5 separate regions of the Homo sapiens genome follow, and regions 2, 3, 4 and 5 are each reported to be linked to region 1. The links are microRNA targets in miRTarBase. Many come from high-throughput screens and were not tested one by one. Region 1 holds a microRNA gene; each other region holds the end of a gene's coding sequence.
The links. The annotated mature microRNA hsa-miR-3120-3p reads CACAGCAAGUGUAGACAGGCA and lies in region 1 at 4,176-4,196, opposite strand. An mRNA with a match to its seed (bases 2 to 7 or 8) in the 3' UTR can be bound and repressed. Matches are read on the target gene's strand: a 7mer-m8 pairs with bases 2 to 8, a 7mer-A1 pairs with bases 2 to 7 and ends in A, and an 8mer does both.

Region 2: miRTarBase lists FAM241A as a target of hsa-miR-3120-3p. Seed matches in the 3' UTR shown: 7mer-m8 at 3,146-3,152.
Region 3: the mRNA of ACAP2 is a reported target of hsa-miR-3120-3p. Seed matches in the 3' UTR shown: 7mer-m8 at 4,783-4,789, 7mer-m8 at 4,690-4,696, 7mer-m8 at 4,447-4,453 and 7mer-m8 at 3,759-3,765.
Region 4: the mRNA of COX5B is a reported target of hsa-miR-3120-3p. Seed matches in the 3' UTR shown: 7mer-A1 at 5,185-5,191.
Region 5: the mRNA of SDHAF2 is a reported target of hsa-miR-3120-3p. Seed matches in the 3' UTR shown: 7mer-A1 at 4,817-4,823.

Annotation. Positions count from the first base shown.
Region 1 is chr1:172,136,449-172,143,053 of GRCh38, reverse strand. It overlaps MIR3120 (microRNA 3120), which reads right to left and starts at 4,246; the gene lies at 4,166-4,246. All of the region lies in intron 14 of DNM3 (dynamin 3), which reads right to left. It overlaps DNM3OS (DNM3 opposite strand/antisense RNA), which reads left to right. Exons shown (of 4, transcript NR_103486.1): 3 at 841-918; 4 at 2,458-6,175. MIR214 (microRNA 214) reads left to right here and starts at 4,147; the gene lies at 4,147-4,256.
Region 2 is chr4:112,185,453-112,192,057 of GRCh38, reverse strand. FAM241A (family with sequence similarity 241 member A) reads right to left here. Exons shown (of 2, transcript NM_152400.3): 2 at 1-5,365. The coding sequence ends at 5,120. Among named protein-coding and RNA genes, the nearest start is that of AP1AR, 43 kb to the left of the region's middle.
Region 3 is chr3:195,273,617-195,280,221 of GRCh38, forward strand. It overlaps ACAP2 (ArfGAP with coiled-coil, ankyrin repeat and PH domains 2), which reads right to left. Exons shown (of 23, transcript NM_012287.6): 23 at 1,129-5,812. The coding sequence ends at 5,712. Among named protein-coding and RNA genes, the nearest start is that of XXYLT1, 5.8 kb to the left of the region's middle.
Region 4 is chr2:97,646,721-97,653,325 of GRCh38, reverse strand. COX5B (cytochrome c oxidase subunit 5B) reads right to left here. Exons shown (of 4, transcript NM_001862.3): 2 at 6,186-6,259; 3 at 5,883-5,982; 4 at 4,943-5,330. The coding sequence ends at 5,218. Among named protein-coding and RNA genes, the nearest start is that of COX5B, 4.0 kb to the right of the region's middle.
Region 5 is chr11:61,444,659-61,451,263 of GRCh38, reverse strand. SDHAF2 (succinate dehydrogenase complex assembly factor 2) reads right to left here. Exons shown (of 4, transcript NM_017841.4): 4 at 4,531-5,323. The coding sequence ends at 5,193. Among named protein-coding and RNA genes, the nearest start is that of SDHAF2, 18 kb to the right of the region's middle. RefSeq lists an enhancer at 4,175-4,922.

The DNA of each region.
Region 1 (6,605 bases):
TCATGATTATTAGTTAAAATATAAACAGCAAGGAGAAATTTAGCTACTTTCACTTAGATGATATAGTAAAGTTATCCTTTCATTTTCTATTGTGACTTGGAGAGTTCCATATTAATTATTTTTAGTAGAACAAATGAGATGTTAAAAATCTATATAGTTTCTTTTACATAAGAAAACTAAAAAAAGTAACTTAGAGGAGCTCATTTTTTCAAGAAATATATTTTTTCTAATTGATACAATTACTGAAGAGGAAAAATAGCTAACAAGGTACTTTGGTAATGTTTTTCTCAAATTTTCTGGGTTTTTTTTTTTTTTTTACTCTAGAAATGATTACATTTCAAAATTTGCTTTCATTTAATGTATATTTAATTTCAATTTCTTTCTTCATGTTAAACGGTCTTTTTGTTTCAAAGAAATGAATCCCTATGGGTCCCTCACCTATTTTCTCCCTCAGGATGACTTTTAGTCTGGAGATAGAAGGGACATAAGGGTGCCTCTGGCATAAGTACAGGAGTAGAAATATAAGAATTACTTTGTAAAAGGATAACCAAGGAGTTCCTGCACATGCTTGATGTGGCTCTAGCGACTTATTTTCGAGGCAAAGTTTTAACAAATGAAAACGAATAGTACTTATTTTTCAATTATATGGGCTAAATTAAAGATCAAAGGTAAAAGCTCATTTTATAAAGCTCTGCTGAATGAAGGCAGGATTGTAGTTTATGCGCTGGTACACACGCCCACATTTATATACATTATAGCCATATCTATATCCAGGTAAATTAGAAAAATGTTTAATTTTATTTTCATATTACTTTATAAGGAGATATACAAATATTTTAGGGATCATGGAATCTATTCCAGAGGAAACTAACCAACAGTGAGCATCTTCAACTAAAACTACCCCTGGATGTAATAAGTGTAAGTATTAAAATTAAACATTATATGTGGTCATGAAGAGAAAATTGTTTCAGGGTCTGTCCAAACTACACTTCATAGAAATTTCATAATTATTTTTCATTTTAGCATGTGAATGATTGATAAATTGGACTAGGTACTGGGTTAAAAGGACTTTTCCACCATCTAAGAGAAAGGAAGTTCAGAGCCTTAGCTTCAACACCACAATTTCTTAACTGGAAAAGGATCAATCTAAAACGGTGGACTTAAATTTTCAAACTCATTTTTCTTTTAGGCCACAGATCTCAAAATCAAAGAAAGACTGTTTACTATAGGACAAAGTTTCACACTGATCACTTTCCTGTAGTTAGTCAATAGGCTTAATATCCTTCCTGCTTGGCATTCGGGCTTTCGGCCCAGATAATATGTTTATGTTTGTAAAAGACCAAAATATACTATCTACCCCCACCTCTCGCCTACAGACCACCCATGTATTTCACTCTGTGGGAAACAGTTTAGGCATAAAAATCCTAACGAAAGAATTCTCCCCACTTTTTTGGTTGAAGTCTTAAGCTGTTATAAGATATAAAAAGTACAACTTGGTAATGTGAAAAAATTCACTCATCCACAAGCATCCATGCTCGGTAAAGAGACGCCAAAGCTTTCACTTACTCTGTAAGGGATCTGCTCTTTATAAACAATGCACTTTACTCTGCTCTAAGGAGAATAGCCCACCCATCACAATAACGTCAAAATAATAACTAAGAGACCATCACTCAGAAATCCTGGCTTAAAATAACTAGAAGGTCAGGCTTTAACCTGAGACAGGAAATTCCTGAGTTAAGATAGAAACTTTCTTACTTCAAATCCCTTCTTACTTTCATGTTCTGTAAATTAAGTAGAAATAAATATTTACTCATTTTCAAAGGTCTCTTACAAATAATTTTTATCAGTTTTAATAGTTAGAGATAACGAAGTAAATTAGGAAAAATAATTAAATCTTCATTTTGAATTTTTTGACTTAGCGTGACAGCCAGTTTCCTGGAGTTGCTTTGGTTTAATTTCACTACAGAAGACTTAGAAGACAATTCTTTTCTTACATTTTTTTCCTTAAGAAATAAAAGACAAAAAGAAAACAAGGTGTAATAACCACACTAAAAATTACATGGTATGATAATAATACAAATAGCTCTTTTATGTTTTAGCTAGTATTTTAAGTAATAATAAACTAATATTCAACCTATAATTTGGGAGATTAAAAAAAGGTCAATATGGTTTTCAGTCTTTCATCTTTTTAACAAGTTTAGGGGCAGGTTCAACATAACAATGAAGTGTGCATATGTCACATAGTTACTGTAAGTGTGTTTTAAAAATCTATCAGAAACATAAATTGTCCAAAAGCCTTATGAATAGAACAATTGTTTTCAGCAAGATTTTTTTTTTCCCCTGAAAAACTGTTGTGGTTTTTCTGGCTCAAAAAATTTTTATATCTTGCCTTAATAAAACTGTTTTATATTAAAGCATAACATACAAACTCACAAATATTTCTTTTTATTTTTTCAGGTTGCATGCATCATTCCTTTAATTGAGCAGAGTTAACTGGATCAAATTATTTATGGGAGAGAGAGGAAAAGTTATAAAGAATTATAGTAATTTTTAATTTCCACCAATATACTCTTTGTAAGTGAATCACTCTATAATTACTTTCTGTTGCACTGAATGCAGCAACAATAACACAATAGTATTTTAAGGCACTGGTTTTTGGCATACTCTAACCTTGTAATTATTTAAATAACAGCCAAGTTTACTCATGTTTTTGATTCTGTCAAGAAAAAAAAAAAGTTCCTTTACTCGAAAGTGATGGCCGAAACAGAATCGGAAATTTGTTTTCTTGAAATTACATAAATACACAGAAAATGGCACTTATTAGCTTTTGTTAAAACATTACCTTACCTAATCACTGCATAAAAGTCCAGATTTGTAGAAAATTGTAATTTTCTCAGTATCTAAAACTATTTTGCTTTCCATTAAGTTTCTATTTGCTATTTTCTCAGAATTTTACAATTAAAGATAAATCACAAACTGTTTGTTTTTCTTAAAGTTCTTTGAGAAAATGTCTAATTATACAATCCTTGGACAATACTGTGTTTTTTTGGTGCTGTGTTTTTTAAGAAGTCCTACTTACTGGAATTTTGACTATTTGGATATTTTTGTTTTTAAAAGGGGAGGGGAATTTGCTTAATACTTCTAAAGATGTGAATTGATAATTGATATTAAAATAGAATTACTCTCAACTCACCAGAATTAAATTTTATATCTGCATATTTAACACTATTAGCTCATATAAATTATAAGAAAAATTTTCAAAGGATCTGGTTTTAATTTTTTGGATATGAAATGAATTTGCCTTTTCTGCCTTTTCTTAAGTACTATTTTGTAACTATATTGCACTAACTATATCCAAAACACATTCTGAGCATCACTGTGAGTAACAGCCTTCCAGTTTGTACCCTTTTGATTCACAGCATGGCCCTATAGTTAATTAAGAGGTGGATAACTTAAGCTCACAACTGCCTTTAATTTGATTTCACATCCACAGTTATAAACTTTGCATTTAAAAGGAAAATGAGACATTTAAATAGGTTCCTGTTGTTTCACATATAATTGGTAAAAACATATTCCCTTGTAGGATCCTATTATCAGAGCATCAAATACCAAAGTCAGCAACTTGGGTTGCCAAATAAATTAGGCTCATTAATTATTTTGAAAAGGGCTGCTGTTTCCATGTAAATGATAATTTTCTTTTTCATGGACAAGGTTATGGTACTTATCTACTAAAAGAAACATGCATAAACATAGTTTTTATCTTTAACTTCAGTATTAAAATATGCAGTTTTTTGCAAAGAGGAAAAACATCTGGTTCAATTACGCTGAACTCTGACTACATGTGGGCCAGTAATAATATGAATTGGACTTAAGAATAAACCTTGTGTTTAATCTCTTTTTTTCCTTAAAATTTTAATGTGAGTTTTCTGTTACGCAAATTATCCATGTTAGCACATTTGGAACAAATGTATAAATGTACTTTCTGAATAAAGTCAAAAGTCTAACTTGTTTTTAGTTCCATAATGTTTTAATGTTTAATTATATTGTGTATTTTTCTCCCTTTCCCCTTACTCTCCAAAATCACCAAATCTGGAAAACAGGCTGATTGTATCTGTCTATGAGCAAAGGAAACCTGAAGGAACCAAGGGCCTGGCTGGACAGAGTTGTCATGTGTCTGCCTGTCTACACTTGCTGTGCAGAACATCCGCTCACCTGTACAGCAGGCACAGACAGGCAGTCACATGACAACCCAGCCTGAATGACAACCAGCCATTGAAAGAAAGCAGCCCTCACACCATAGCATCTACACCAAGAGCTACAACCAAAATGAGGGGCTCGGGGGCCTGGGGTTTTAATCTGTTGGTTTAATACTTAACTCATGTATTATTTTATTTTGATTCAAGTATTAAAACCCACCAAAAGTAAAGTGAGTGGTGCCTATGAAATATAATAAAACCCATTTCTGAAAATGTTCCTGTGCATTCTATAGTTCTCTTTTCCTAATTGTTGTCAGCAAATCACTACCCTTGACCTTTATTGTACACAGCTTTGCAGCACCCTATATTGATATAAAAACTCAATATAACAAAACAATATAACTTCAGTCTGATGCTTAACAAAGAATAAATTATTCTAAGAATTCTTGTCCATAAACTAAGTATGGTTTTCTATGTCATGATTTTTTTTTTTTTTTTTTTTTTTTGGAAGGGGATAGGGTGGAAAGACAGAGAAAAGAAAAGGGAGAAAAAGAGTATTCCAAAGGATCAAGTGCTTTGAGTTAACTCTGCCAGTCTGGGTTAACTCTGCCAGTCTGGGTCTGGGCAAAACACAGTGAAAAGACTACTATTTCCAACTAGTGTTCAACTATATTAAAATAATAGTTTCTCCTCTTTTGACATATGGAAAGTTGAAATTTTTGATACTTCCACGCGTCATGGTATACATAAATTTATGACTGCGTCATTCTTTAATTAAGAAGGTGCTTATGCTACAGTTCTAGGAGTAGAATTTACAAGGCCAACACATTCACTTGCAACCTATGCTTCCATCACTATAAACTTTCAAGATCTTGAGATGTTCAGGCAATTCATTTATCTTCAGAAGCATAAGGAAAGTGGTTAATGCACTTGAAATGTATATTTTGACACATCTTTTGAGAAAATATCCAAACTTCAGTTTATGCACTGTTAACTGGAGTGAAATGATAAGGGATGGCTTTTGTCTATGAATACTTTAAATACTTAAGGGTAAAAGGTGGGAAGATGGATAAAATTAGAAATGTGTCAACTTTTATTTAGTTCATTAACATGTTTTAGCTTCAGTATTTGAAATTAATTTTCATCTTTCTTAGATTCTGGTCAAGCTTAAAAAATGTAACACAAGGCTACTCAAAACTTTTTTCACATTTAACAATTAAACACTTTATGTATGTATTCTTAACTAAAGCAAACTATTTTTCATTCAGCTATTTTATTTTTAAAATGAAAGTCTCAGTCTTAAAGCTAAGATCCCAGTGAGTTTCAAATTTTCTGACAATGATATTTTAACCAAACCTGACATTATAGTTTCTTTAATTAAAAAACTGAATGATGGGGCAAAACTACAAAGCACAAATATGATTAAAGTTAAATTTCTCTCATTTAAACAATCTTGTCTTATGGCAATATGTCATCTGCTAAAATTCATCTCTGCTTCTGCAAGATACATTGCACGATGCAGATTTTTGCCTTAAATAAAAGTCCCATTACTAGCAAATAAAGTCCTAAACAATACTTACAAAATGTAGAATATAAACAGGAAGACAATATAAAAATTACTCACAGAATATCGACATCGTTCTACCCAATCTTAAATGCCTTGTACCACCTGTTGCAAATGCTGCCTATGAGAGTTCACGTATGGAATTATTCTACTGGACCCTGCAAGGCTCAGGAGAGTGCTTGACAGCTCCCAGAATGAGACAATGACCTAGCCAGAACATTAAGGAGACTACACCCGTCCTTCAGACTCCAAAGGGAAAGCTAGGACGGCAGCAGAGTCATCCTAAGGTGAGGCACTCCAGGATAACATTTTCAATATTTTTCCTTAAAACATAAAGTTAACACCTTTTTTGTTAAACATTTTTTACTCAATTTTCAAAAAAAATGCTTGAAAGAATGTTTTGTATGTATTTTAAAGTCATTAAATGAGGCACATTTAAAAATTTTTCTCTTCTGGGAAAGGGTAATATAAAGGATAATATTGCTCTTCCAGGATAAACTTTTGAGTGGGACAAATAATGCATATAGGGGAGTGGGTTTGAATCTAAACTCATTTTTAATAAATTTGGAATAGGATTGGCCATTATGGTTTATTGAATAATACTCTTTTTTTCAAAATTATAAATCTTTAGATAATACCAGAACATGGAAATATTTGTATGAATAATCCTATATTAAAAAAGAATAACATCAGATAGTTTATGTATGTAAAAAAATATACAACTGTGATCATGCAGAATTTTAAGTAATATAAGTGGATTAGAGTTCAATATTTACTGGGACTTTTGTGAAAATATCTAAGTTTTGGCTAACTAAATAACTTAACGAAGGAGTGTGAACAGTGTT
Region 2 (6,605 bases), not on the chromosome of region 1:
ATACTTTTGGAGTCAAAGAACTTCAAAGTACAACCAGCTCTAGATCTTTTTTGTTAGTGGTCTATATGAAGACCATGAGTAGATGAAGTGGGTTTACTTGATAAATATTTTGATGGCCTATTATGTCCCAGGCATTGTGTTAGGCACTAGCAATGCAATTATAGAATGACAGACATGTTCTCTTCCCTTGTGAAGCCTATTGATTAATTTAATAATTAATCAATTATTAAAGCAGCAGCTGACAAATAAGCTATTGCAATATAGCATGAGAAGTGCTGACCTGGAAAGCACAGGGTTGCACTTGAGAAACCAAGCCATAATGAAGAACCAAAACTGGATTTAAAGGAGTCAGAGAAGTTTCCCTGGAGGACATGATGTCTCACTTGAGGTCTTAAGGCTGTGTAGATATTGGTCAGTCTGGTAGGGAGCAGTTAAAGAAGTAAAGCATGTACAAAGTTCTGGAAGTAAGAAAGCATGTCTCTTTAAAGGAACTGGGGAAAAGTTCAGTATAGTTGAATCCTGGAAATGGAGAGTGGCAGTATAGAGAGATGAGGTACGCAAGAACCAGTACATGAAGAGCCTTGTAAAACATATTAAGGCATAAGGACTTTATCATAACGAAAACAGAAAGCCATTGAAAAGATTTAGGTCAAGGATATCAGAATCATGTTAGAATAATTCTTTAGAAAGATCTGTAACTACAAAGTGGAAAATGAAGGTAGGGAGGCTAATCAGGATTCTCAGCATGCCAGGTGAGATGATGGCAGAATGGACTCAGTGATGCTAGGAATGAATAGAAGTAGAAAGATTATATTTTTAGAAGTAAAATAGATTTGGTACTTGGTTACATGTAGGTAGTGTAGGAAACACAGAGTCAAGGATGTCATCTACAACTCCTGCTTGAGCAGTTAGGGAAAGGATTGTGTCATTTGCTGAGATGGGAAACAGGAATTAAAGATTTGGGAGAAGGATGCTGCGCTCGTTTGGACACGCTGAGTCTTGGGTACTATGGGATAACCAAATGCAAATAAATATTGGGCAAGCAATTGAATGTAGGAGTCTTAAATTCTGTACAGTGCTCTGATCTAGAGATGCAAATTGGGGAGCTGTTAGGATGCAAATGGTAACTCTGCAGCCACGGGAGTGGTGACATTGCCGAGCTGCTGTGTGGAGTGATGTGAGAGCAGGCTGTTGGACTGAACTCCAACGCATACCAAAAATTAAATGTTGGGCAGAGAGACAAGAGTTGCAAATGACCTCTAATCCACCAATACTCCTGAAGTCATAGTTTGTAAATAAGTTTATATTCTTCTCGGCCAACTCTATTACCAGGCATGAAAGTCTTTTTTTTTTTTTTTTGAGATGGAGTTTCGCTCTTGTTGCCCAGATTGAGTGCAAGGGCATAATCTTGGCTCACTGCAAACTTTGGCTTCCGGGTTCAAGCGACTCTCCTGCCTCAGCCTCCTGAGTAGCTGAGATTACAGGCATGCACCACCACGCCTAGCTAATTTTGTATTTTTTTTTTTTTTTTTTTAGTAGAGACGGGGTTTCTCCATGTTGGTCAGGCTAGTCTCGAACTCCCGACCTCAGGTGATCCGCCCGCTTCGGCCTCCCAAAGTGCTGTCCCAGCACTTTTATAGGGATGAGCCACCGCGCCTGGCCGTCTTACATTTTTTTTTCTCCCTTCAATTGTAAAGCCATAAATTGGTAATGAAAGCATTTTAAACACCTGAAATTAATAAACATTTGTAAAATAACTATTAAAACAATCTATGAACCACACGAATAGCCTTTGATTGCTCCAAACCTGGCTTTGACTATTTTGAGCTTTCTATATTACAACAGACCTTTACTTATACTGTAATTTTTCCTCTATCATTCTGTAAGTTTTGCCTTTCCTGATTGCCTGGATAGTCTTTAGTGGATTTACAGCTTGGTGACAGCCTAGAGAGATTTTCTGTGGTCAAAACATGATTAAATAGAGATTTGTTGGTCAGAAGATAACCATGAACCATAATACCCACAAGGGAAAGAGCCAGATTCAGTTTTGGGTGGGTCGATGGGGATTTACCTCATATGCTTTCTTTTATTTCACAAAATGTGTTCTGTTCTTTACTTTCGTATCTGTAGGAATAGAAATGGGAATGTGGCCTCTAGGGTGTGCTGATGTATGTTTAACAGCTGGCTTTCAAGGAAAAAAAAAAAAAAAAGATCTGATTTGCAGTGTTTACTAATTTTTTTGGTGTAAATACTCTCACCATGGCCAATTTCAAACTACCAACTTGACAGCACTGAAGGCAGAAAAAATGTTCACAGTTGGCTCTTGTAAGCCAGTGCAAGCTTGCTCCAGCACACTACTGGACTAGGAATGATCTGCCTGTAGCCAGGAATGGGAAAATACCTTGCCCATGACAGCTTAAGGTATGAGAGGACAGAATTCTACAAAATACAGAGTTTTTACTTTAAGAAAAATGGATTTACTCATCTACAGTCTGTTTATTTGTAGACTTCGACCTTTTTCTTTTGAATTACTGGCCATATGAGTATGCATTATGTAATAACCTTAGCATTGTAACTTCTATTTCTTTATTCATAAGCAATAACAGTTTCTAAAACTGGCTTGTATTTGAGATTGAAATGATGAGAATCATTTTCAATCCAATTTTTTTTTTTTTTTTTTTTTTTTTGAGATGGGGTCTCACTCTGTTACCCAGAGTGCTGGAGTGCTCACTGCAAGCTCTGCCTCCCGGGTTCACGCCATTCTCCTGCCTCAGCCTCCTGAGTAGCTGGGACGACAGGCACCTGCCACCAGGCCCGGCTAATTTTTTGTACCTTTAGTAGGGATGGGGTTTCACCATGTTAGCCAGGAAGGTCTCGATCTCCTGACCTTGTGATCCACCCGCCTCAGCCTCCCAAAGTGCTAGGATTACAGGCGTGAGCCACCGCGCCCGGCCCAATCTAATTCTTTATACCATGAACCAAATAAATTACCAGTTTTATTTCAGGATATTAGTATAATCTGCATTCTAATATATTTCATAAAAGAAAATATTTTATTTCCATTACATAGGCAAAGTTTGTTTTTTCCCATATCAAAGCCAAATATTATTTGATGTACTGACCAATAATATATGTAGAAAGAATAACAGCAAAATATCTTATTTCTTTATATAATTTAATATATACCCTATTAACACCAGTGTGCAGATGTACAGTACTGACAGTATACTAAATAGTTAGTATTAAAAATTACTTTAAAAATGTTTTCAACATTAGGTACTGGTGGAACCAGAGCTGTTATTTTGTACATCATATCATTTATGTGTTGCAAAGGAAAAGTAAAATTTCCAGTAGCATTAGAAAAAAATGTACTGATATTTTATGTAGATATACAAAATCTCATGACATCTATTGAAAACCTCACAATTCTATTGTGCACTAATAAAAACACCTTTTCAAACAACTTGCACTTATACTGAGTTCATAAAGGCTACTATAAAAATATTGCAAAAGCAATAAAAACACAATATCGTACAAAGTCTTTTGTTTTTTAAAAGTCAAATTTTAAAAGGACTGTATTTATATAAATGTGCAATACTTTTTAGTGACCCTGACTAACATTTTTGTTTAGGATTATCTGATTTTAGAAAACTAAGTTAAATGTTTTTCCTTATTTTCTGTTTCAGAATGAGAAGACACTAAGAATGCACAGAGGTTTAGAAATAAGATTGGGTAAAAGCTTTATGAAGTGGGATAGCAAGCACTCTACATGTTTTACTTGTTGCCCTACCAAAGATACAAATGCCTGACTGCCCCAATTTCTGAAATTTAACTTGAATTCTAAATCTTAACTACCCCCCTTTCCTTTATAATCTTTGAGATGAAAGTGTAAAGATTTTAGGTTCTCTAACAAAACCCAAAATATCACTAAAGCCATTCTCCATTTTCAAAGAATATTTAAAGAAATGCGTATTTCAATATAAAACCTGAAAATGCTGAATTAAGACACCTTAATAACATGGCTAGCCAATTACTGATGTGACTTTAGCCTTAGAAAAAGATTATCAAAATTGGCTAAGTTCCAAATTTAAGCATTTGGTTTTATACTGTTAATATTGTACCTTTCTGATATAGATATCAAAGAAAAATGATCTGATTTTTTTCCTGAAAACAACAGTAAAATACAAATTTTTTGTGAAAAAATCCATGTCAAGATAGGAAATACATTGTTTCAAAACTCAGAATAAGTGTTATGAAAGAACTATAAAATTATAAATTTCTAAAAAAAAATACACTGAAAATGTCTCTCTAGGAAAAAATATGCAACTTGTTAGATACAAGAAAATATGGCATTACCATAGGGTGCAGTCAACTAGGCTATGAGACTTTAAAAACTCACAAAAAGTAATTAGCACCAAAATTGTCTGAAACTTCAAATGATATATTAAAGTAGGTCTAGGTCCAAATGTTACATTTTAAAAAAGTTATATTTAACCTGGGAGCTTTCCCCAGTAATAATAAATATATTATTTTTGACCTTTAGAAAACGTTCTATCTTTACTGATTTTCATCACAATATTAAGGTAGTGTATGCTAATTATCATTTACCTTAGTTTAGGCTGGGTAGGGACAATTGAAATCCAAATATTTCCCAAATAATATGAGATTATTTGGTGGGGAGTGTGAGTGGGGAGAAGTTTTCTAAGTGAAACTTACTTTTAGCTTGTTTCATACTTTTTCTTCTGAAATGTTTTATTGGAACTCTTTATAAGAACTATATTGCTTGATTTGAATTCCATGTCCTGTTATTTTCCCTGTTCACTTTCTGGTGGTGTTACTTAAGATTTGGCATGGGGATAGAGGTGTATAAAGGAGACAGAGATCACAGTAGTGAAACAAGAGTTTTGAATAAGCTAATGTATATTCAAAATATATATTCAACCCTGTTATGATCAAGAGTTTAGTTTTAAGTGACATCCATGTATAAATTTACTTACAAAACAGCCAGCACATGATTTGAAACAAGGCAAACTTTTTCGGTTGTCAAAAAGTGAAATATATAACTTCTTCAATTACATATATGGCTACCAAATGTCAAACAATTCAATTCGGCCATGTTTTACTGTTGCACATAAATAATAACAAGGCAAAGAACAGCAACTAGTCCAAGGGCTTGCAGGCCAAGGAACCACAGCATAACCCAAAAGAAAATGACTATTACTGGTTCCACTATTCGTTCTCCAAAATACATCCTTGTGAAGCCCATGTTGATAAGGTTTTTGTTCAGTTCACCAAAAAGTGTTCCCATTTTCTTGTAGTCATCTCCAACCGGCTCACCAGTGTGGTTCTGTGAGTCTTCAACATCCTTTAAAAAAAAAAAAAAAGACAAAACATGAACATAACATGAGAAATATGTAAACGTCTTTAAGAACCTTAGTTCTTCATCTTCCAAAGTGCTGGGCATACTTCTGATAATTATTCTACAAGTACCTGTTAACACAATGGGAATGTTCTTTTTGATCCTGGAATTGCACAAAAATGACTGCTTAAGTGAAGAATCATGTTTGTATTTCTCTTGTGAGTGACCATGATTTCAGAACACCCTTTTCTGCCACCCTCCTGTTTTATGAGGCAAGGCCTGACTGCTCTGTCCTGGTAAGATTCTTTTTAGACGGTTCCTTTGACACTAAGACGTTAAGAAACCGAGCCTCAGATGACCAAAGCATGTTTGCTGTTATTATTGAGCAATCCTCAGCCACTACTGCTGTGATCTTTGTCTTAGGCTCAGCTAAGCAGACTTCAGCGCAGGCCCTTGCATAGTTTCCTGTTCATTATATAGATGCCCTAAATGCCTCTTATTAATTTCATCAGGAGAAACAAATAGTTTTAATACAAATTTTTTTTTTTTACAATAAGGCCAAATGTCTACCCAGTAGTTAGTATCCCAGAAAATGTCTACATGCACCCAATTATACATACCTAAAGTATTATTTCTATTATCTTCCACTTGTATTATAATTAAGGCCATGACAGTAAGCTACTGTCTCTTGGCTTCAAACCCACTCTTTGGAATTCTGCAAGCATTTCTGTCTCCCTGTTAGGCTCTGCCAATAGAGGGACCAGCGTGACACTTCACAGGTAGAGAAGGAAGAAGGAATTTGCTGTTTCCTTCGGATGGGTTTCTTAATCCTGTTAAGTCTCACTCTAGCAACAATTCTTCACTCCGACAGCAATAGTGCCTGCTAGTAGTAGCAGCTGATTGCAATTTGGGGGTTTTCCAACACTTGTAGAACCAATCTCAATGTGCCTTCTTGAGATGCCAGCTCCAATTACTGGGTGCTTCTTCCTCAGATACCTGGTTCCCAGGTCTATAGGCTCCCTCCTCTGAACTCAGAGAAATCAGTACCAGGCAAGCAGTGACCTGTTCTCAAAAGTCTGAATTTCAGTTCCATGGGGGCCTTTTTGAAGCTTCTCAGTTTCAGTAAGTCCATCCATCTCTTTTTCTTTCTGCCCAGTCCTATGAGTGGTTGTCTTGGTGATATTTTAGTGCAGTGGTTTTTAAACTTTAGCATGCGTTAGAATCCGCTGGAGGGCTTGTTAAAGCA
Region 3 (6,605 bases), not on the chromosome of region 1:
GATGTACATACGGAATGATTTGCTGGTGAAAGGTCTAGGATCTGGTTCCAAAAAGTCCAGGAAAGGGGAAAAATGGGTAGGAGAACAAATATAAGCCATGAGCTTATAGCTATTGATTTTCTCTACCTGTACATGCTTGAAATTTCCCATAAAGTTCTCCCCATCTATTAAGTGAAAGAAGTGGGTAACTGTATGATCCCATTATATAAATGTATGAATACACACACCCAAAGGTCTAGAAGGGTATACACAAAAAAGTAACAGTATCTCCCTCAGTGCTATCCAGTAGAACTTCCTGTGACAATGTATATATTCTACAATCTCCCCTGTTCAAAACAATAGTCACTAGCCACATGGGGCTATAAAGTTCTTAAAATGTAGCAGTACGACTGAGGAAATGAACTCTTTGTCTAATTCCAATTAAGTAGCCACATGTAGCTAGTGAGTTCCATTTTGGACAGCACAAGATAATGGAATTGTGGATGATTCTCTTGCTTCTTCTTAACATTTCTCCACAAGCAAAAAGCTTTGTGTTTGCAATAATTGAAAAATTAAACTGTTTTCACTTAAAATATTTATAGACTATTGATGTGGGTTCTCCACAGAACTATTCTGAAAATGAAATGAAGCTGAATAAAGCAAGTTATATTGAAAAGTTTATGTGTCTGCTTTCAATTAGCTTTTTTTTTTTTAAAGCAAATGCAGGTGATACACTTCCAGTTTGGTTTTTTCAACCTTCCATTCCTTCAGTCCCAATTCACTGACAAACGTGTGTGTGTCTGTTTACTAAAAGGATAAAATGGGAATGTGCTGCATAGATTAGGAACATTAATGTCAATCATAATGGAAAAAACTTAGAGCAAGCCCCTCCCCCCACCCCCCAAAAAAAACCTTTTATCTTTTTGCCAATGAATTAGGGGCTATAACAGCTCTGTGAACAAAGAGAATTATATACTTAAAAGATCCAAATGGATTTCTTGATTGAAGTAATCAGCAAATAGGATGAATGTGGATTTGAAAGGGCTGGGAAGAAATACCTTAAAAATAATAGTACCTTAAAAATAACTGCTGTTGACAGATATGTTCACAGTGTATTTCACAAGAAAATGTAAATCACCATGAAAGAACTAAGCCAGAGGTGAGATCTTTATTGACTTATTGTAATTTTTTGGCATACAAATTACTTAAGTATATTTACAATTCTTACATAATGTACATTTTAGAAGATAATGTACTTTGCTCCATTTACAATGACAAACTACTGTAAAACTACATTCATGAATTAGATACAAATCCTCTACATACTAATAAAAAGTAAATGGACTGTTGGTTATACATTCTTTAAAATATACCTTTTCACAGGTAGCAAGAAATAGTACATGTAATAAGTCTTTATGACTGGAATGATCCAGAAATATCACAAAGCATGAGTAAACACATATATAAAAGTAGCTCATCATTTCCAAAAGTTAACCTTTAGCCTTTGTGTAAAATAAATGGTGCCAACAATCTTTATAATGTAGCAAGCTTTCCCTGTTTAATATCCAAAAAATGGAGGGTGGGGAGGTTGAAGAAAAATAAGAAAAGTTAGCAAATAAGATAGTGAAAAGACCAATGCAGAGAAAAGTTTATGTAATCAAATCTTGCTTTGTCTCCACATTATCACATTTTAAGTGGATAAATTTATGTAAACAGAAAAAGATGTCCACAAAACCATATCTGTAGATGTCATTTGGAAGCATCAAGAAATTGATAAGTATGTGGTGAATTAAAATTACTTTTATAATGTTTTGCTTTCATTAATGTTTGTTATTGCAAAAATGTAAGATTTCCTACAATTTTGTCTTCAAATCCCAATCTAGCCCTTCAAACTTTTATCCAGGTTCTCCAGAATATTTGGAGTCTTTGTTATCAAAGCACAAGGAAAGCTGGCATTCATTATCAGACTTCGCTGCTTTACAATGATTTCAAATCATTTCATGATACAAATAAAGTGCCTCTGACTGGTGGTCAGTCAGACCTGGGTAATGGTGCCAATTCTGCCACCAGCTAGCAAATCAAGTGACCCTGCTCTGTAAAACAAAAGGAGCACCCTAGGATCAAAAAAGTAGACAACTTTGGAGCTTAGATTAAGATCTCAGAAATCCTACCATGAGAATCCAGTGAGATAAAGCAATGCCAAGTACACTGTAAGTAGCAAAACAGTATACAAAGGGATGCTTCTATATTTTCACCTTGTTTCATTACACTCATTTTAATTGTGAGGAGCCCTGAATCCAAAAAGGGTAGTGACGACTAGTCCAGTGCTCCTTCCACCGTATCATGCGGTTCTAAAGTCATTCTGGACATACAATCTACAAAAATACATCATTTTTCCAGCTCATGTCCATGATCCAAAGTGATATTATACACAAGTGTTATCTGACAATATAAGAATGATCTGGGAATGTCTGTTCAAAACGGTAGTAAATTTAGTCTTAAACACAATTTCATTTACTGCGACCATACTTAACATGCATAAAATATTTTTAAAATACAAACTTAAATTGGCCAGATTCTGAATGTGTACTTTTTTTCTTTTTCAAAATGCACTCATGAAGAACCAAAGTTCATATTCCAAATTAAATCTGTATGTCTGGAAAAGTAACCAATCAAAGTTCATTAAAATATACAGTGAAAACCGGTATAAATTAGGCAAACACCATAATCTAATGAATATCAGGAAATTTCTGAGTTTCTAAGGATTGTATTAAAGGTAACTTTTTAAAACCTTAGAAATCTTAAGCACATAAATGTTATAATGAAGCATTTGCAAATGACTGCTCAATTACTTTTATTCTAGCTCTAACATGAAATTGCATTTTATTAACTCTTCATAGTGCTGCTATTCTTATTTTGATATTAATCTAACTTTCAAGTTAGTAAGCTAATGATAATGAGCTAACAGATTAATAATAAGGAATAAGAAACTAATAATAGCAGATAAGTTATGGAAAGAAAATAAAAGGCCAATCACATTGACTAATGAAGCCCAAAAGCATGATTAACTAAGATTTCTTATAATGCACTGAATAATTCACAGCATAACATAATTCAGATTTGTTACATACCATATAAAAGCTATTAGTTGACATGGCTAAATTCACCTAAGAGCCAACCTACCTTGTAACTATTAATTTAATTTAAAGCCTTGCTGTTTACTCCATCATTTCTGCCAAATGTAGTCCAAATTGGGTCTCAGCATATTCAAGAAATCAAGCCACAGAAATGTGTACTTGTATTGCTAGGCTCCCTGCAATATTAAAGATTTTGCTTTCTCTGAAGATATTCTGAACCATGATCATCTTTAAGGCACTTCAAATACATTTCTGACCACTAAATTTAAGTAGATACTAATTAATTACTGCCATATTAACAATTCATCACGTAAGCCACAGGAGGCAAGAGTCTCATAAGGAATTGCCTTCACAACCACAGAGATTCCAGAGGTGATCTGAATGAAACACGCACCAATGGCCAGATCCAAAAGGAAAACTACCTAGACTTCCTCAGATAAAAGTCAGGATCTTTAGGAATTAAAACAGGAAGGGACACTATAAAGGAAAAGTGAGGTTTTTTCTTTTTCTTTAACGTACTTCTTTTCTTTGAGCTTCTTGGTCAAATAATTTCAAGGTACATGCTAATAAAAACTACAAATCAGATTTTTGCCTTTAGTGAAGGTGCCTAAAAAGCCAGATGATCTATGACTTTGAGGTGAAACAGCAAAGATAAAGATTTAATGTTCCTGTTATTGTTATAATTAAATACAATGCTGTGGAAGTTAGCATTTCCTCAGAAGTAATTCACAAATATATTTTTATCCTTATCTAACATACAGTGACCATTACTAAATAAGCATTACATGCATGCAGTTTGGCCAAATTATGGAACCTTTTCTGTAATGTGAACTTATTTCAATATAATTCCTGCTTGGCTAGATTCTGATTTGATGTTTAATCAACTTATAAAACCCTAGTGACTGGGAAATGTTAGAAAATTTATCTATAATTGGATCATAAAGTTTTTATATATTTTAAAACCTCTTATTTAGAAAGAGTATCAATAATATCATTTACATATAATTTCTAAAAGAAGAATAGACTTAATTGTTGACAACAATGGGAAGGAATCAAAAGGCAAATTAGGCTGGGTGCGGTGGCTCACGCCTGTAATCCCAGCACTCTGGGAGGCTAAAGCAGGCTGATCACCTGAGGTCAGGAGTTCGAGACCAACCTGGCCAAAATGGTGAAACCCGTCTTTACTAAAAATATAGAAATTAGCTCGGAATGGTGGCGGGTGCCTGTAGTCCCAGCTACTCGGGAGGCTGAGGCAGGAGAATTGCTTGAACCCAAGAGGAGGAGGCTGCAGTGAGCTGAGATCGTGCCACTGCACTCCAGCCTGGGTGACACAGCAAGACGCCATCTCGGGAAAAAAAAAAAAAAAAAGCAAATTAATTATTTTATACTTTAAGACATTTTCAAAGATGGAATCAGACTAATTTGTAGCATATAAATGGTAATGTTTATCCATAATATTTTGGAATTCAGGGGTCTGTGAATCATGTAACCGAATACTAAAGCTATATACACGATATAATTTAAAAGAATGTACACTGTGTACAAGTACACAAAATAGATGTAGAAAAAATAAACAGCAATTTATTGCTATATATTTTAGTATTAACTAAGAATAAGTGGGGTTCTTTTTCTCCTTTGTACAGAGATTTTTCTTTCACTAGGAGCAACAGCAAAACTATCTTTAAAAGGACAAATTTCAAATATAAAAATGGCCTACATGATTTTATAAATTGATTTTTCCTTTAAAGTTTTGATGAAGGCATAATTTTGTGACATTCAAGTAACCTTTAAAACATACTTTTATTCCATCGATACATCTGTCAAGGTTTTGGGGAATCAACCCAACAATGAAGAACTACACATTTTGAACTGGGGTTTTTTTTTGTGATTAAAAAAAAAAAAGAGCTTCTTTTTGCTGCATAAAATAAATCTAAAGGACTGAATTATGGTCTACCTGTACAGCCATTATACATACATACATTAAAGTACTGGACAATAACCTGTCACCTAAGAAGTATAACCGACCGCATTTATGAACAAACGGGGAAAACACATTCTCTAGTTCTAATAAATCATATATTATGTGTATGAAAGCTAGGTTACCAAAAACACATCAACACACACACCTATTTCTGAACCACCAAAAAGCCTCAGGGAAGCTAAAGAAAACACATATTCTTGAGGCAGGCAGGACAGTTGGCTTCCACTTGATGAAGACATGCTTGACTGAGTGATCCTGGGCAAGATGCATGGAGGAAAAAAATCAATGCCACCACCCATTGGCAAAAGAATCACTTTTGTCTAACCTCCTATCATCTTGTAACCTAGAGATGGCCTAAATCTAGACTGAACTTCTGTCTACAGAAATAGCCCTTTAAATAGGCTTTTTTAATAAAAGAGGTCCTAAACTAGGTTCCTCTCCTACTACTAGATAACTATGTTTTAATTTATAAATATATGAATGGGTACCTCTTTTCCAAGCCATTCAATATCTACCAAAATTAAGTAGAATTAAAGCAGTAAAAAAATTGTGATTTTTTAGCTGTATACATTAGGGGGTCACCAGATTTCATATTTTCCCATTTTTAAAAAAATTCAGAATTTCTGTGAATCTTGCTGGAAACGATTTAGTTTCTCTGGATTATTGGATGCCATTTGGGAAAAATCACGAAATATGTCCTGATAAGTTTCATCACCTGCATGAAATAAAATAAAGACACTTTAAACATTTACACAAGTATTAATCAAACAACATTCATATTTATTACTAGTACTATTTTATAATTCATTACATTAAAATTTTGTTCAGATGAGCATTTTTGGAAGAAAAGGGGCAACTAAAAATAAATGCTGAAAAATTATGCAATGAAAGAAAAAAAAAAACTATACCTGAAAAAAGCACCTCAGATGCAGCCACAGAAGAAAGCTCAGAGTTAGAAAAGAGCAAAGATGCAAGTGTTTTAAAGCAATGTAAAGAAATACGTTTATTAACACACGGGGGGGAAAAGTCATTCTAAATGAGGTGGAGTAAATGAGACCTTCTTTAAATAAATATTTCCCTTGATAAAGGCCAAAAGAAATGACTAAAACCAAATACTAATGTTTTGGATGGATGCAAGTTATTAACAAGACAAACTGATAATCAAGACAAACTGATAATCAGATAGGGAAAAATAATACTATCTTTTAATTAAAAGCAATTTGAAAAAGTAATTTTTTACTCAAACTTTAATGCGTAATTAAAACTAATGCACCTAATCCACTGCTTCCTAAACTCATAAAATAAAAATCTAGCTGGGTGCAGTGCCTCACGCCTATAACCCCAACACTTTGGGAAGCTGGGTGGGGGGGTTGGGGGGAGAATTGGTTGAGGCCAGGAGTTCAAGACCAGTCTGGGCAACATAGCGAGACTACATCTCTACAAAAATTAACAACAAAATCCTAGAAAATGGCTTTAAGGCCAGGTGTGGTGGCTCATGCCTGTAACCC
Region 4 (6,605 bases), not on the chromosome of region 1:
TTTTTTTAAGAGGATCTCACTCTGTTGTGGAGGCTAGAGTGGAATGCAGTGGCACGATCACGGCTCACTGCAGCCTCCATCTCCTGGGCTCACGGGATCCTCTTGCCTCAGCCTCCAAGGTGCTGGGGCTACAGGTGGGCACCACCACACCCCACTAGTTGTTATTTTTTTGTAGAGATGGGGGTCTCACTTTATTGCCCTGGTGAGTCTCAAACTCCTGGCTTCAAGTACATCTCCTGCCTCAGCCTCCCAAAGCACTGGGATTACAGGCATGAGCCACCAAGCCCAGCCATAAGTCATTGTCTCTTTTTTTCTTTGCTTTTTTGAGATGGAGTCTCTCTATGTTGCCCAGGCTGGAGCGCAGTGGTGAGATCTCAGCTCACTGCAACCTCCACCTCCTGGGTTCAAGCGATTCTCCCGCCTCAACCTCCCGAGTAGCTGGGATTACAGGCGCTCACCACCACACCCAGCCAATTTTTGTATTTTTAGTAGAGATGGGATTTCACCAGGTTAGCCAAGCTGGTCTCGAACTCCTGACATTAAGTTATCTGCCTGTCCCAGCCTCCAAAAGTGCTGGAATTACAGGCATGAGCCACTGGGCCTGGCCATAAGTCATTGTCTCTTGATGATGCACTAAGAGGGGCCTGATTTTCCCTCTGGTATTCTTGCATCACCTCAGTCTAACCAGGAGCAAGCAGTAGGCAAACCCAAACTGAGGGCAGTCTACAAATGAATAGAGTTGCCTTGTTCAAAAGTGGCAGGTCATGGGGACAAGGAAAGACCAAGTGCAATGTGAGATCCTAGGTTGGAAAAAAGACCTTACCAGGAAAGCCAGCAAAATCATGATAAGGTCTGCTGGTTAGTCCATAGTACTGCATCAGTGTTAATTTCCTGGTTTCAATAATTATGCTATGGTACTGCCAGGTGTTAACATTAAGGAAAACTGAGTGAAGGTTAAGTAGGAACTCTATTATTTTTTGCAATTTTTCTGTAAGTCTAAAATTATTTTAAAATAGAAAATTGCGCTGCGTGTGGTGTCACATGCCTGTAATCCCAGCACTTTGGGAGGCCGAGGCTGCAGGATTGCTTGAGCCCAGGATTTCGAGGTTCCAGTGAGCTATGAACAAACCACTGCACTCCAGCCTGGGTGACAAAGACCCTGTTTCAAAAATAATAACTTAAAAGTTGGGGTGGGGGAAAAGAGCTCAGGGTCTGGAGCTATGGTCTGGGTTCACAATCTTGCCACAAGAAATTGCTAGCTGTGTATTCCTGAGCTGTCCCCAGGCTTCCCCATCTCTATTATGGGGATGGTAATAATAGCAGCTTCCTCATGGGTTTATTCACAGCCTGGAAGACAAGCCTGGAACATTTTATTCCAGAAAATAAAAAGAAATGCTCAAAGAGGCCGGGCGCAGTGGCTCACACCTATAATCCCAGCACTTTGGGAGGCCGAGGCGGGCGGATCACGAGGTCAAGAGATCGAGACCATCCTGGCTAACACGGTGAAAACCTGTCTCTACTAAAAGTACAAAAAATTAGCTGGGCGTGGTGGCGGGCGCCTGTAGTCCCAGCTATTTGGGAGGCTGAGGCAGGAGAATGGCATGAACCCAGGAGGTGGAGCTTGCAGTGAGCCAAGATCATGCCACTGCACTCCAGCCTGGGCAACAGAGTGAGACTCCATCTCAAATGATAGAGGCATGTCAAAAGGCCACAGGAGCCAGCTAGAAGAGGTTCCCGCTGGCCAAATTTGGAACAAATTAAACATCAAAAAATAAATAATGATAGCCATGGATTATAATCCACTGAATAAAATAAAGTATGAATCCATACTGATAATTAGTAAGCTGAAAGTTTGATGAGGAACAAGGTATTGACATTTCTAAGTAGTGCCTCATAAGATAGTAAAGAGCAACTTCACAGTGAAGTTTGGCAGACATTAGCTTCATCAAGTGACAGAAGTGAACCTCCTCAGCAGTGGACAAGTGGGCATCACGTGCCTCCCAGGAAGGGGGCAGCATTCCTTGCCCACCATGCGTAACCTGAATCCAGTGTGAAAGAGACAAACCCAAGTTGTTGGTATAATTCTTAAAAGTGTCAAGGTCGGGATAGTCAAGGAAAGACAGGAACTGTTCCAGATGGAACAACTAAGGGCAACACGTGATTCTGAGTTGACTCCTTTTGCTATAGAAGACATTATTGGAACTTCTAGCAAAACTTAAATGAGTCTGAAGATTAGATGGTAGAAATATACAAATCGTAGTTTTGTGATTTTGATGGTCATGTTGTGGGTATTAAGAGAATGTCTTTGTAAGAAATAAACATGCGTGTGATGGGGCATCAGATCACCTTACTTTCAAATGGCCCTGGGAAAAAGTTCTTCCTTGTATACTTGGAAAGAGTTTAATACAGTTAGAGTGAGGCTTATATTCTTCCTTGGTGAGTGGAGATGGCATCCAATTTAAGCTGCTAAGTGGCCAGAGGTTCAGATGGAGCCCACTTCTACCCAAAAGCAAAAGTTTTGTCCTCCTAGTGGGGAACATTATATCTTTCCCCCTACCACTAGGGCTCCCAGTTACCATGAGGCAAGGAAGCGAGCTATTCCATATGGTTAGCCTGAAGCAGTTCTCAGCCTTGCTGTTGGAAACACCTGTGGAACTTTAAACTTCTGATGCTTGGGTCCTACCCCAAGATACTATTTTAATGTCTGGGTGTGGCCTGGGCACTGGGAGTTGTAAAAGATCCCCAGGTGGTTCTAAGGTGCAGCTAAATATGAGACCTACTGACTCAGGGATTGGATTTATTGATCTGTGTATTCTTTTCCTATTAGTGCCACAGAAAATTCTCACAAACTTAGTGGCTTAAAATAACACAAGTTTATGGCCGGGCACGGTGGCTCACACCTGTAATCCCAGCACTTTGGGAGGCCGAGGCGGGCGGATCACAGGTCAGGAGATCAAGACCATCCTGGATAACACAGTGAAACCCCGTCTCTACTAAAAAAAAAAAAAAAAAATTAGCTGGGCGTGGTGGCAGGCGCCTGTAGTCCCAGCTATTCAGGAGGCTGAGGCGGGAGAGTGGCGTGAACCCAGAAGGCGGAGCTTGCAGTGAGCCAAGATCGTGCCACTGCACTCCAGGCTGGGCGACAGAGCAAGACTCTGTCTCAAAAAAAAAAAATAGTTAGTTATTATCTTACGGTTCCTAAGTCTAATGTGGGTCTCACTAGGCTGAAGTGAAAGTATCAGCAGGGCTTCACTCCTTTCTGAAGACTAGAGTATCATTTCCTTGCCCTTCCCAGCTTTTAGAATAGCTACTTGCCTTCCTTGGCTCGTGGACCCCTTCCTCCATCTTCAAAGCCACCAACATTGCATCTCTCTGACCATTCTGAGTCACATCTCTGACTCTCTTTTGCCTCTTTTGTGCTTTTTGGATCCACCTGGATAATCTGGGAATAACTGTTTTAAGGTCAGCTGATTAGCAACCTGAATTCCATCTGTAGTCTTAATTCCTTCTTGCTATGTGACCTAACATATTCACAGATTCTAGGGATTTATGACGCGGACATCTTTGGGGGATCATTATTCTGCCTGCCACTGTCTGGAAATGTACTGGAGATTTTTCTTTCCGCTTGTTTTTTTGGTTTGAGACAAGGTCTTGCTTTGTCACCCAGGCTGGAGTGCAGTGGCACGGTCATGGCTCACTGAAGCCTCAAACTCCTGGGTTCAAGTGGTCCTTTCCACCTCAGCCTCCCAAAGTGTTGTGGTTACAGGCATGAGCCACCATGCCCAGCCAATTTTTCTTTACAAGTAAATTGGTTAAATTTTAAAAAAGAAAAGCAAAGACTTGGAGATGAGGGAGGGAGAAAACAGACTGGATTAATGATGTGGGGAGTCAAAAGTCTCCCTCAGCCGAGTTTGAGTTGGAAGAGATGTGGAAAGGGAAAGGCAGGCCAGCCACACAGGAGGGCTTAGTGACAGCACAGACTAATCTCATGGGCGTGTAGGGGTTAGATTTCACAGGGGGTTATCTGAGAGCTCCCCTTCCCAGAGGAAAGGGCCTTAAATGGCAGGTCAGTGCTTAGACATTTCCTGGACACAGGTCATGAACAACAAGGATGGAAGCAATAGCTTTGACTACACCTTCAGGATGGGCAAGATGAGGGGAAGGGGCTTTTCTCTGACTCTATCAGCTCCCACTGAAATACCTACTTTCGACCAATTTTGTGAAGATAGTAACTGAAGCCACCTCTGGCTAATCTCCACACAAAATGAAAAGGTATTTCCATTTTGTAGGTAAGAGGGTTTTGAGATTTTAACTTGTCCCAAGGTGTCACAGGTATGAAGCAGCTAAAGTGGGCTTTTTTGGCATTTCTCCCCTCCCTTATTCCTGTGCGTATCTCAAGCATTAAAAAAAACAAAACAAAACTATATAAATACCTGAAAGGGTGGTAAATGTCTACATATCAAATATCCAGAGTTCAAATTCTTCTCAATTTTTTTTCCTTTATAATTGTTTTCAAATCAAGATCTAAACAAGGTGTGCATGCTGCTGACTGGTATCTCCCTTATCTGTTTCTCCACATGTTCTCCCTAGCTTTTCCCCCCACTCCTTGCAATTTATTTGAAGAAACATGGTCAGTGATTTCTGAAATTGTTCCATATTCTGAATTTTGCTGCTGGTATCCCCATGAATTCTTACTTTGCACCTGGGTCCCTCAAGACTTCAAAATCCCCAAAACTCTCTTCACAAGGCCACCCTGTCTCTATGAGGATACTGTGAGGACCTACTATCCACTCAGCTCTTTACATATTAAGCACCTTGTAAGGTACTTACCTTTTTGTAGTTGTACTTGACCCCCAGAGAACATGTCCACAGAGATAGAGCCAAATGATGGAGCCAATATTTTAAGTCCTGTCAGCCTGACTCCTCAGCCCGCCCCTTTCTCTCATACCAGGTGGTCCCATTCATTGCATTACGGGTTGTCGATCTATTCTTATTATTAATCTAAGCACTATACACTGGTTATACACTTTCAGTAAGTGGATGGCAAGCTAGCATTAACAGACAGCTTTTCCCAAAATAAGCATATTCCATGCCTACCAAAGAATACGGGTAAGAAATAAGACCAGCCATCTATGGGAGAAGGAGCCAATGCAATGGCTAGTCTTTACTGGAAAGAAGAAACTTTACAGCACATTTTGAGTAATTTAGTGCAGGTGCTCAGTGTGCCAGCTGCTGGGGCACCAGCTTGTAATGGGCTCCACAGCGGGGGCATCGCTGGGCCTCGCCTTTGTGCAGCCAAAACCAGACGACGCTGGTATTGTCCTCTTCACCTAAAAGGGAAAAAAGGTGGTTTATGGTCATCCAACCTAGAAAGGGAGACTTTCAACATGAATTTCTTTTCCTCAGACATCTCTGATACACAAGTAAGACTATGGTTGATATCTTAAGAGATCAGTTCAAGCCCTCCTCCCATTCTTCAGATGAAGAAATTGAGGCTCTGAGTTCACCTATGAGTAAACTGACCTTGTATCAAGGTCACTGTAAATTCTAACAATTCCCTTGCCTATGTAGAACGCAAAGCAGGGTCCGTTCTGGTATGTATCCCTAGTGTCTAAAATGATGCCTGGCATAGAAGCAGTATAACAATAAATATTTGCTGGGTGGGTACTCCTTCATGCCGCACTCCCAGTGAGCCAGTCTTACCGCTGTGCTGCGCTTCTTTCCAGTAAGGATGAACTATCAGGCATAATGAGGCTTGAGAGTGTCAAGACCCTTAGACAAACTTACCAACATGCACTCACACACTGAAGATTTGAGGCAGCTTACACACTATTGTAGGATATATTAAGCAAGTGGATAAAAAATAGAGGTGAGGTACTTACAGATGCAGCCTACTATTCTCTTGTTGGAGATGGAGGGGACTAAATTAGGGTCTTCCCTGGTGCCTGAAGCTCCCTTTGGGGCCAGTACATTGTATGGGTCCTGAAGAAAAAACAAAAAACAAAACAAAACAAAAAAAACAAGAATTGAACCATTAGGCCAAATAAGCCCTACCTTCCAGAAGCTCAGGGGACTGTTCCTACAAGCCAAGTTTCCTGTATCAAATACTCCCAGAGAGGAGACCACTATGAACACATCCAAGGCCATAAGTTACACAGAAGACACAGAAGGGAGTTTCTCCTTACCAGTCCCTTCTTTGCAGCCAGCATGATCTCCCTCTCCAACCCAGTCGCCTGCTCTTCATCAGTGGGAACACCACCTAAAGGAAGATAACGTGAATTATGACGCTGACTGAAATGACTGATAGAAAAACTACAAACAGAAATGATCAAGGAAAATGGTGCCCCGAAACTTCTGTATAAGTTTTAGCGGGCTCACAAGCTCCTAAAGGCTACTCATATCCATGGTCCCCTAAGAACCACCAAGTACCCATCCACACAAGCGGCAGCACTCGGGGGAGCTTTTTTTTTCTTTTTTGAGACGGAGTTTTGCTCTTGTTGCCCAGGCTGGAGTGCAATGGCGCGATGTTGGCTCACGGGAACCTCCGCCTCCCGGGTTTAAGCGATTCTCCTGCCTCAGCCTCCCGAGTAGCTGGGACTACAGGC
Region 5 (6,605 bases), not on the chromosome of region 1:
CTATTTGGACCAAGACAACTACCTGTTTCTGCTTCTGCTGCAAACAGTATCTAATACACCATCTATGAAAACCTTCTCACTTCTGCATGACTCCGCTGAGATGGGAGCCCAGAGAAACAGGTGAGTGAGGGTCCTGCTCACAGAGGGCCTGGCCTCAGAGCCTTGGGCCTTAGGAGGAACCAGCACTAGTTTGTCAGCAAAGGCACTGGAGCCAGTGGGTGCGATAGAGGTTGTGCAACTCATCTTGGGACCCTGGAATGAGTTCTATGTGGGCTTCCTAACAGGCACATCCAACTCTCAGAGGCAGCCTCCCACTTGGATACAAAGGACAGCCAGTGATGGGACGGCCCAGAAAGCATAAGAGCTCATCTCTGCTGCTCAGGGTAAGGAGAAAACGCTTGAAGCTGGGTAGAACTTGAGCCCTTCCCTCTGGCTCCCCTCCAAATCCACAGGAAGTCTCTGAACTCCAAGCTCTCACCTGGAGAGCTAGGCTGCACATGTCCTCCTTGGAAGGCTCAGATGGTTAAGTCTAGAGCTGCTGAGGCTGTGACATATGAGTCATGGTCCCCAGGTCCTATAGGGAACCAAGAGAGGGTGGCCCAATCTGTGCAAAGTTGTCCACACCAGCAGTCTGCCATGGACCAAGACAAGATTCAGGATGAGAGGTCGTTAGAAGAGAGATGATGATGCTTTTCATGTTTTGAGGCAGGGTAGCACATGGTACCTAAGTGCAAGGGCCCTGGGGCCCACTGCCTGGCTTCAAACCCTAGCCCAACCGCTTCCTATCTGTGACTTTGAGCTAGCAACTTTATCTCACCGAGCCTCACTTTCCTCATCTCTAAGACGGGAATAATCATTGCACCTATCTCACGGTATTGTGGGATGAAATGACGTAAAGCACTCAGCAGCACTGGGTACACAACAAGCCGAACTATTAGATGTTACTACCAAGTATTACTGAGGGTACAGGGGCTGTACTAAGCTCTCCAGGGGCAGGACTTTATTCAGTCCTTATACCCACACTGTGAGGTCGGGTTCCTTTTCTTTCCTTTCCACAGATGAGAAACAGAAGCTTGGAGAGGTTAAATAATGTGTTTCAGGTCACCCAGCTAATCAATGGGAGCTCCAGGATTCTAGGTTAGGCCTGATTCCTAAACAGCTCCCCTTAACTACTCTGTTCTATTTCCCCTAAACACGTGTTCCAGGGCATCACCAGAGGAGAATATTTTATTAAATATTAGCCAAATCACCTGAATCCACTGAGAAACAGAATGTACATCTTAACGTTCTCACTTGCTGAAAGTTCCATGCTGTGATGTGTTGTTACAGAAAATGATATATCCACCCTCCCCCACTTTTTTCCTTTTATACTCTAATCTCATGACAGATTATACAATCCCCTTCTTAAAGAAACATTCTCCTTTTTGAAAGGAATATTTGGCACTTTGGGAGGCTGAGGCAGGCGGATCACATGAGGCCTGTAGTTCGAGACCAGTCTGTCCAACATGGTGAAACTCCGTCTCTACTAAAAACACAAAAATTGGCCAGGCATGGTAGCGTGCACCTGTAATCCCAGCTACTAGGGTGGCTGAGGCATGGAATCGCTTGAACCCAGGCAGAGCTTGCAGTGAGGGGAGATCCTGCCACTGCACTCCAGCCTGGGTGACAGTGAGACCCTGTCTCAAAAAAAAAAAAAAAAAAAGGAGTATCTGGGGTCTGAGATCCGGGATCCAACAAAAGGCTTTTAACTCTTCTTTTGCAGCTATAGGTGATGATAAATCTACCCATCTCCTTTAAAGACTGATGTTGTCCTGGATAGCTTAAACTTTCTACCACCCCTCTAACAAACTGCTAACAACACTTGTTTCTTAAGCCACAAAAAGTACTGCTGGCCTGAAGCCACCTATCCCACCAATGCCATCTTCCCTGACAGGAAAATTCGAACACCACTCCTCATTCCCAGAGGGTTCACTGGGAAACTGAGGTGTCAGGAGTTAGTTTCACTGGGTACTGATCAGTGTCATCAACTTGATAGCTGCGGGATGGTGAGTCCACTGTCCTCAGATACTACAGAACATACTATTAAGTGGGGCTGTCAGCTCAAAAATCTCACAGACCTGCTTGCCATCTACAGCTGTTTAGCTTATCATTAAACCTTCCTCTCTTTGTCTAGCCACAAATAGCTGCAGATGGACTGAAGGATAAATGAGAGACCCCAACTATCCCATCGGAATCTTTTCCCAGTGATGTTTAAAAATATGAACCAGGTCTGTATTGGTGCCACCCTGGCTGGAGCAGAAGACATACCAGATGACCTCCAGATAACACTCAAAGCCAGTAAGAGTGCTTCTACAATGACCCCCAAAAGACACACTCTGTCTAAGGCACAGAAAGCTCCAGCACAAGGTGTTTGGCTTATGGATTTTTAAGACTTAGGATGATTAAAAGGAAACGATGGAAAGAGAACAGCCTTTCCTGACCCAATTTAAGGTGTCACGTGGAGAGCCTGTGCAGGACTCACAAGACCACTTGAGTCGGTCAGGACAGGGCCAGACGCTCATATGCCCCACACAGGCTCTGAATGAGGTCAGTAAGCAGGGATGTGTCAAAGTAAAAGGAATGAGTCTAGCTTCTGTGCATTAGCGATCCTTCGGGGGCTGCTGGCCCTTGCTATATGTTTATTAATTCCTAAAAAAATGCACTGTGGCCGGCCTAGTTTTACTTAATGCCTAATAAAGGGAAAAACTGTTTACATAGCATCCCTGGGCCTGACAACTGAGCAGGTGAACTTAGCAAGATCCTTCACTTTCAAAGATGACACAATCCAGCAGCCTGGGAGGAAAACAATTCCTCTAGAAGCATGCCATTCCCAGGTGAAAGCGGCAGCAATTGAACATTGTGTTAAATAAGACAAAATCAGGATAAGAAGGGATCAAACCCGAGGGGGAGAAAAGTTCCAACTACATCCTTGGCTACTGGGGTTTGTTGCATAACGTGCAAAGGATAAATGGGTAAGTCACCGCCCAATTCATGTGCACTTCGTACAGTCCAGATCTATGTCTATATATAAACTCCCGGCCTGCTTAACATTCTCCCCAGGGTACATAAATGCAGCCCGAGAGAATAGCCAGAGTCTTCAGCAAGCTCCCAGGGAGACGTCTCCTTCCTCGCCTGCCCTGCTTCTGCGAGTCTCACTTCCATTCCTTGCTTAGGGGAGAGTGCTAGATTTTTCCATCAAAGGTCTTGTCACCAGGGTCTGTTTTCTCTCTCGTCTTCACTGGGAGGTAAGACATTCTGTGGTTCTATTAATAGGCTCAGCTTTCTGACCTGCAGATGAGAAACCCTGGATGTAGCTATGGTGACCTCATTGATATGCCAGGCAATTTGTGTTAGGGACAGGTTTTAAGTCTCAGACTGAGGCTATGACTAAATGCTGACATTCATATCTAGAGTACATACTGTGCAAGTTACCATGTAAGAGCTTTGTGTGTTTCATCTCATCAACTAGCTGAGACAGGAAGCATTGTCATCCCCATTTTATAGATGAGGCAACTGAGGCTCAGGTCAATTCATGTATCCAGCAGGTAAGCAGCAGAGCCAGGATTTAAATGTGTAACCAGTGCACTGCGCTGCTTCCTCACAGAAGCTTCACTGGGTGATCAAGTTCAGATCTACTCACTTGGCGAAGCACCTGGCAGATTCCTACCCACCATGTAACACAGAGGTCATGTCTCAGAACTGTCACATCTATTTGCCACAGCTTTCCCAAACAGAGACTTCTATTAAATTTCCAGCAGTAAGGCAGTGTGTTCTAGTAGAAAGTTCAAGAGCTTTGGAGGCAGACTGAGCTATACTAAATTCTGCTTTTTCGACTCAATAGCTACCTGACCTTGGACAAATTACTTCCTCTCTCTGAGCCCACTTTCTTATGTATAAAATACAGGTAACACCACTAGTCTAGAGTGCTGTGAGGCTTAACTGTGATTACGTAAAGGCTAGATCTCTTCCCTTCCCTCCTGAGCCACCAGGGATACTGAAGAGCAGGCAGGAACCATGAGGTGGCTCTGTAGGAACCCTGGAGCTCAACAATGCTGGAAACATGTGCGTGTGTAGTCCCTGTGTGCGGCTCCTATAATCACCAACCACCTGCTCATCAAATCTGGCCGACCTTCTTCTAGTCAACACCTTTAGATGCACCTGGTCCAGTCTGGGTGACTGATTCTACTGCCTAGATTACAGCTCTGAGGGCAAAACCCCTCCAGGGAGGGCACCACTAGCAACACAGAAGTCACACAGCCCTAGAGCTTTTAAAAACACTTCTAACTAATTCATTCTAATATATTATTTCTTATGTATTATTATTTAGTCAACTAATTGTGAAGACTGTAGGAATGAGGGGGAAAGTTTTCTATAGTGCTACATGAAAATAAAACCTGTAATTGTGAACTTGTAAAACTCTATAAACATGACTATGGGTTATATGAAAATAGACAAAATTAAAATTAATTGTGAGGGCTGGGAAATTGTAAATTTCCTTTTTTCAGTATGCTTTAATAATTCTCTTTCAAATTACAAAGTGCACGTTTTAAAGAAAGCCCAATGATGAAGATGTTGACTCCTAAGCAGTGTGCCCACACCACTCCTGCCTGTGGCCCTCATTCTGCCTGCTGTGCCTTTGAAGGATTCAGCTCAGGAGGCTGGGATCAGCTTCCCTTCGCAGAAGGAGCCATACCAGGTTGGAAGTGGGGAGTTCCACTTCAACAAAGCCCTGGGCCACTGAGGGCGGGGAGCTGCAGGGAGGGCGGGAGGCTTTCCATACAGCACGCACAGCTGGCTGCCTCTTTTCTTTGAGTACACTTGGGCTGAGGCAATGAGCAAGCACAACTGCTTCGCCTGCAGTGCCCTCTCGTGGCAGACTTGCCTCTAGAGATAGCAGCCAGGCAAAGCCTGCATGCCAGCGCTGCTGACAAATCACTTTTGAGGCTCAGAGCTGAACAAAAAAGTATGAGAATGAGTCACATTGTGCATTTACATGTATGTCCTAGGAGAGGGTTATGTCCATCACTTGAGGCAGGACCAGTGGTCTGGGGTAGGGCAGCTGGGCATCTAAGAAGCCGGAAGCAAGGCTAACGTCCATCATAAGTAGTTACCATCCACAGACTGAACCCCCATGCCAGGCCGTGGAGCACAGCTCAACGTGGCTTTTCAAAGAGGTACTCAAGATCTGGGGCACGCAGTCTCTGCTCTTTGTTTTTGTTTTTAGCAAAGTCTCTCAGCAGGGCCATGACTTCATTTTCAAATATTTCTGGGGCTGGTTTAGCTTCTGCAAGAGAAGAGTGGGCAGAAAAAATTATGCCATAGTCAGTCAATGCTCAGGTATGAGAATCTTAAAACTCGAAACACTGGCCAAGAACCACAGATGGATATATAGACTGTCTCCATCCTTCTTCTAAATATACACGATGTTAGCCTATACCAGGGGGTGGCAAACTGTGTGAGCCTATATTTGCAAGTCGTTTTATTGGAACAGCTGCTCCCAATGGTTTACATATTACCCATGCTCCTTTTGTGTTATGACAGCAGAATTGGGTACTTGCAACAGAGACCATATGACTACAAGTAAAATACTTACTATCTGGTCCTTTATGAACAAGTTTGCTGACCCCTGGCCCGCACAATCTTGGCTGTACTATTTTGCTTTGCATTTGGCAATTCCATTGTTCCCCAGACATTGTGTTTTCCCTTGCAATGTATATATCTCTTGAAACAAAAGCTCTCTCCTTTGTCTATCAGTTAGAGGTCCTCAGTTTTAAGAGACAGAAACTAATAACTCTAGTAAACTTAAGCAAAAAGGAATTTATTGGAAGGATATTGGAGGCACACAGAACTGTCATGAGCCTAAAGAACCAGATTTCAGTGAACGGGCAACATAGGCACTGAGTCAGAAGAATGAGAAGGCCAGCCTCAGTCTACGGCAGTGGGTCTGGCAGTGTGCTGCTCCCCCTGACCTTTCTCTACACCCTTGGGACACTTATTTAAGATGCCAATTACAAGCAAAGCCTCCCACTGCCAAAGCCGAGGCAATGTGCTCCAGAATTACCCTTCCACCAACACTAGGTACGACGCCAGGAGAGAGAATTCCTCAAAACCAAGTCAGATTCTCCCTTACTCAGCACAGGGCCTGGCATCTAGTGAGGGCTCTGTTTTCATGTGACAATCAACATAAGATCAAAGAGGTTTTGGCTTCCCCCAAGAAAGTAGAAAGTTGGAAAGAATATTGCACTCACTGTAACAACAAGAAAAAGCCAGATAAATTACAAATATTATGACTTTTCTCAAAGATATCAGAGAACTGAGGTCACGAGGCAACCCAACAGACGAAACCTAAGGAAAAAGAGGCCCTTCAAAGGAGAAACGAGAGCCATGCACTTGCTCACCTGTGGCAGGCACAGGAAGAAGAGACACTGGACATCATACAAATGGGTAAAAGGAATTCAGCTAAAAAAATTTTTTTTTTTGTTTGAGACGAGTCTCACTCTGTCGCCCAGGCTGGAGTGCAGTGGTGCGATCTGGACTCACTGCAAGCTCCACCTCCTGGGCTCACG